2 separate regions of the Homo sapiens genome follow, and region 2 is linked to region 1. The links come from fine-mapping of genetic effects on gene expression. A gene starts in region 1. The other region holds a variant in brackets. All regions are shown on one strand. Distances are from middle to middle.

What was found. PIP is the estimated chance that this variant, and not a neighbour inherited with it, causes the effect.
Region 2: its variant is the best candidate, but not a certain one, in a credible set for the expression of RTN4RL1 in left ventricle (GTEx, PIP 0.66).

The regions. Positions count from the first base shown.
Region 1 is chr17:2,024,257-2,027,158 of GRCh38, forward strand. It overlaps RTN4RL1 (reticulon 4 receptor like 1), which reads right to left and starts at 1,078. Exons shown (of 2, transcript NM_178568.4): 1 at 597-1,078. The coding sequence starts at 609. RefSeq lists enhancers at 1-470, 1,639-2,139.
Region 2 is chr17:1,884,357-1,887,258 of GRCh38, forward strand. The region is part of intron 13 of RPA1 (replication protein A1); the gene reads left to right. Among named protein-coding and RNA genes, the nearest start is that of RPA1, 56 kb to the left of the region's middle. The variant G/A (reference allele first, on the strand shown) is at 1,613.

The DNA.
Region 1 (2,902 bases):
TAATGAAAGTTTGAGGAACTGGACATCAGGCGCTGGCCGCTCCCCACCCTCAGCCGCTGGGTGCCCAGAGCCCATCCCTAGCGATCAGAGCAGAACTGCAGAGAAGACGTCCGCGTCCGGGCCCCGTCTGGGGAGCTAGGGCGCGCGGGGAGCGCCCGGGCCGCGCGGTCACTGACCGCTGGCTGCACGGGGGCGCCGTGCGGACTCGGCCTCCACAAAGCGGCAGAAGCAAGGGCGTGTGCCCGCGCAGGGAATGGAGGCTGCAAGTGCAAAACTTTATCCCAGCAAAGCAAAGGTCCCAGGAGGCCGGCTCCCCTTCCACCACCGGCCGCTCACTCTGGTCTCCGACTGACCCCTCCGGGCCGGATCTCTAGGCCTGGCCACTCGATCCATGGAGAAAACCCCGTGTCTCACAACTGGCCGCTGACGGGAGCTGAGCCCCAGCAGCAGCCCCTCGGCGGGTGCGCCCGGCAAAACCCACCAGCCCGCCGGGGGCTACTTCCCAGACCGGGAGCCCCGGCGCCGGGCGGCGCCCGGGCTCGCGGCTCTTTCCGGAGCGCATTCAACTTCAACTTGCCCCTGCGGCTCCAACTCACCTTTGCGAAGCATGTTGGCCACGGGGCCGCCGCTCCGAGGTCGGCCTAGGCGCACTCCCTCCCGGGGTCCAGATTCAAATCCCTGGGCGCCAGCTGCAGCTAATCCGAGCGCGTCGAGGCGGGGGCAAGCCGGGGATCCGCTCGTGCCCGGTGGCCCGGCCCCGCAGGGGCATGGTGAGCTCCAGCCCCGCGCCGAGGGCACCGGCGCCCGCAAGCAACCGTGGTGCTGCCCGGCAGCCCCGCGCGCTTGCTCAGCCCCGGGGCGAGCGGCTTGCTCCGCGGAGCCGGCGGCCTGCTTCTGCCACCCGGAGCACTTCGCAGGCGGTTTTGAGGGGGGACGCCGCCCCCTGGCCGGCCGGCCGCAGCCCCCTCCTCTCCGCCCCCTCGGACCACCGCCGCCGCGGCTGCAGCAAAAGGGCGCTCGCACGCACCGCCGAGCTCCGGGGAAAGCGCCCGGCGCGCGTTTGCAGGACCGAGCGATCGGCGGAGCGGGGCGCCTCCCTTCCTCCCCCCGGCTTCCCCCTCCTCTCCTCCTCCCTCCCTCCCTTGCTCTCTAGCTCCCTCCCTCTCGCTCCGCTCCCCGCCCCCGCTCACGGAGCGCCTCCCATACAAAATTTATGAAAGTGCTCTCAGCTCGCAGTGCCGAGCGCCGTCCTATTCCCAAGGCAGCAGCGCTCAGCCGCGCGGCGCCGCCTCCCAAGGTGTTTTCACTGCGCCCGCCCCCGGGGAAGATGCTCGGCCCGCGTCCGTCCAGGCACCTGCCCCCAGTCCCCAAGCCGGTCCTCGGACCACTCCACGCCCCTCCCCGGCCCCGCAGGCCTCCTGGAGCCCGAACCCGCAGCCCAGCCCCCGCCCGCTCGCCCTTCGCGGCTGGAGGTCATCGGGAGACGCGGCTGGGACGCGAGGACCGCCGCCCAGAGTACGGATCGCGAGTCCGCTCCCTGCCCCGTCTCCTCCCTGGCCAGCGCCCCTTCTCCCAGTCTCGACGGCTCTTCCCCGCACTGAACAGCTCCAGCGAACCCGGCTGCCCCGCACCCCGAGTCCCAGGACACTGTTCTTTCGTGGGGAGAGGAGGGGAGCAAGCATTCGGAAAGGGCCAGCTGCAAATTCCAGGGAGAAGGAAGGACCCGTGCGGGTTCGGGTGGGCCGTCTCCGCCTGGGTGGGGTGGCGGCGGGGGGTCTCTGATCTCCCTTGGTCCACACAGACCCCGCCGGGGGGTTCGCGGAAAATGGAGGAGGCGCCGCTTGGAAAGCGGGTCCCGCAGGGGCCTGTTGAGCTGAGGGAAGAGAAGGTTCGGGCCAGGCGAGATCCTGGGTGGAGGCGGCACCCCCTGCTGGCCTGGGATCAGAGGGATTCGGAGAGAAGAAAAAGCGGATGGACCAAGGCTGTCATTCAACACACATTCACCGAAGGCTCAGCATGTGTGGGGCACTACTGTTCCTGAAAATTCAGCAGACGAAAAAGACTTGTCTTTGCCCTGTCCTCAAGGAGTTTCCATTTTAATAGGGGCCAAATGAGGAAAGTCCAGAGAAGATGGGAAGATTGTGCTTCGAAGAAAAACAAGCAGAGTATTGTTCTGGAGCTGACACGGGGGTAGAGGTGGCAGTCAAGGAAAGCTGCTCTGAGCAGGTGACATCCAAGCAGAAATCCAACTGAATCCCTCCTTGTAGGAAAAGGTGACATGATAGGAAGGTCAAAAAGAAGGTCAGGGCCGGGCGCGGTGGCTCACGCCTGTAATCCTAGCACTTTGGGAGGCGGAGGCAGGCAGATCACGAGGTCAGGAGTTCGAGACCACCCTGGCCCGCATGGTGAAACCCGGTCTCTAATAAAAATACAAAAATTAGCCGGGCATGGTGGCAGGCGCCTGTAATCCCAGGTACTCGGGAGGCTGAGGCAGGAGACTCGCTTGAACCCGGGAGGCGGAGGTTGCAGTGAGCCGAGATCGCGCCACTGCACTCCAGCCTGGGTGACAGAGTGAGACTCTGTCTCAAAAAAAAAAAAAAAAAAAGGGCCAGGCTGGGCGCGGTGGCTCACACCTGTAATCCCAGCACTTTGGGAGGCTGAGCAGATCACTTGAGGTCAGGAGTTCGAGACCAGCCTGGCCAAGGTGAAACCCCGTCTCTATTAAAAATACAAAAATTAGCCGAGCGTGGTGGTGTGCGCCTGTAATCCCAGCTACTTGGGAGGCTACGGGAGAATCTCTTGAACACAGGAGATGGAGATTGCAATGAGCCGAGATCACACCACTGCACTCCTGCCTGGGTGACAGAGCGAGACTGTCTCAAAAAAACAAAACAAACAAAAA
Region 2 (2,902 bases), 140 kb before region 1:
GTTTCACGGGTGCTGTTCCTGGCTGTAGAATAGTGTATTAACCTCATAGGCTGAGAGCTGCCGGCATTCCCGGACAAGGATTGGCCCTGACATTTGACTTTTAGTTGCAGCTTTTTCCTTTCAGTGTTTGTATTTAATGACCCTCCTCCCATCTTGATCTAAGCCTGTGTTCTGCCAGCAGTTTAGTATTTAGATCATTTATTTCTCCTTTACGCCTGCTCTTTTATTTTCATCATATACAGTGTAGGTTTCATTCCTCCTGTCTCATTTCACTGTATACCCTTATCCATCATTGTCAACAGCAGCTCTTAAGTGCTCTTATAGAACATCTCAAGAATTAAACACTGGACAGATCCTCGTTGTCCTGTCATGGGACACCCACTCTTTCGGTTCTCTGTAATCCCAGCTACCCAGGAGGCTGAGGCAGGTGGATTACATGAGCCCAGGAGTTCGACTGAGCAACATGGAAGACCCCTTCTCTTGAAACAAAAACTTTATTGCTGAAAAATGCTGACAATCATCTGAGTCGTAATCTTCTTGCTGGTGGGGGTTTGTTTCAGGGTTGATGGCTGAGCAGTCACGGCGATGGTTGCTGAACATCGGCGTGTCTTTGGCAGTTTCTTAAAATAAGACAGCAGTGAAGTGTGCCACATTGGTTGACTCTTCCTTTCACAAAAGCTTTCTCCATAGCCGGCGATGCTGTTTGACAGCATTTTACCCACAGGAGAACTTTTTCAAACTGGAGTCTCTCCCTCTCAGGTCCTGTCACTGCTTTATCAGCCAAGCTTATGCAAATTCTAAATCCTTTGTCGTCATTTCAACAATGCTCACAGCGTTCTCACCACAAGAGATTTCATCTCAAGAAAGCACTTTCCTTGCCCATCGTAAGGAGCAGCTCCTTATCCGTTCAAGTTTGATCGTGAGATTACAGCAGTTCAGGCCCATTTTCAGGCTCCATTTGTAATTCTAGTTCTCTCGTTATTTTCGTCACATCTACAGATCCCTCCTCCACCAAAGTCTTGAAGCCTCAGTGTCTACCTTGAGGGTTGGAATCAACTTGTTCCAAACTCCCGTTGATGTTGGGATTTTGATCTCCTCCCATGAATCATGAATGTTCCTTTTTTTTTTAACTTGAGACAGGGTCTCATTCTGTCACTCAGGCTGGAGTGCACTGGCTTGATCACAGCTCACTGCAGTCTCAACCTCCCCAGGCTCCCAAGCTGGGACTACAGGTGCTGCCACACCTGGCTAATTGTATTTTTTGTAGAGACTGAGTTGTGTCATGTTGCCCAGGCTGCTCTCAAACTCCTGGGCTCAAGGGATCTCCCTGCCTCAACCTCTCAAAGTGCCAGGAGTTACAGGTGTGAGCGACTGTGCCCAGCCAACTGTTCTTAATAGCATCTAGAATGGTGAATCCTTTTCAGGTTTTCAATTTACTTTCCCCAGATCCATCAGAGGAATCACTGTGGCAACTATCGCCTCATGAAATATGTCTCTTAGACTTAAAAAGTCAAAATTACTCCTTGATTTGCATGGGCTGCAGAATAGATGTTGTTATCAAGCATGAAAACAATATTAATCTCCTTGTTCTGTGCATCTCCATTGAGCCCTC[G/A]GGTGAACAGGTGCATTGTCAATATATTAATCTCCTTGTACTGTGTGTCTCCATTGAGCCCTTGGGTGAACAGGTGCATTGTCAATATATTAATCTCCTTGTACTGTGTGTCTCCATTGAGCTCTTGTGTGAACAGGTGCATTGTCAATATATTAATCTCCTCGTACTGTGTGTCTCCATTGAGCTCTCGGGTGAACAGGTGCATTGTCAATGAGCAGTCATATTTTTAAAGGAGTCTCTTTTTCTGAGTAGTAGGTCTCAACAGTGGGCTTAAAATATTCAATAAACTACACTATAAATAGATATGCTGTCATCCAAGCTTTGATATTCTATTTATAAAGCAGAGGCAAAGTAGATTTAGCATAGTTCTTATGAGCCCTAAGATTTTTGACATGGTCAATGAGCACTGGCTTCACCTTATAGTCCCCAGCTGCATTCGCGCCTAACAGGAGAGTCAGCCTTTCCTTTGAAGCTTTGAAGCCAGGCATTGATTTCTACTCTCTAGGACGAATGTTCTTGATGGCATCTTCTTCCAGAAGGCTATTCTGTCTACGTTGAAAATCTGTTGTTGAGTGCAGCCACCTTCATTGGTGGTCCTAGCTAGATCTTCTGGATAACTTGCTGCAGCTTCTCCATCAGCACTTGCTGCTTCACCTTGCACTTTTGTTATGGTGACGGCTTATTTCCTTAAACCTCATGAACCAACATCTGCTGGCTGCCATCTTTTCTTCTGCAGCTTTTTTTTTTTTTTTTTTTGAGACAGAGTCTCACTCTGTCACCCAGGCTGGAGTGCAGTGGTGCAATCACAGCTCACCTCAGCCTCTGGAGTAGCTGGGACTACAGGTGCACACCACCGTGCCCTGACAGATTTTTGTAGAGACTAGGTCTCACTATGTTGCCTGGCTGGTATCGAACTCCTTGGCTTAGGCAATCATGTTGCCTCTGCCTCCCAAAGTGCTGGGATTACAGGTGTGAGCCACTGCACCTGGCCTCTTCTGCAGCTTCCTGACCTCTCTCAGCCTTCACAGAATTGAAGAAAGGTGAGGCCTTGCTCTGGGTTAGGCTTTGGCTTAAGAGAATGTTGTGGCTTGCTTGATATTCTATCTAGACCACTACAGCTTACTCCATATCAGCAGTAAGGCTGTTTGCTTTCTTATTTGTGTATTCAAAGAAGAGAGACAGGAATACTTGATTGGAGGATCAGTCAGCATACATACAACATTCATCAATATAAGTTCCCCATCTTATATGGGTGTAGTTGGTGGCACCCCAGAACAACTACAATAGTGA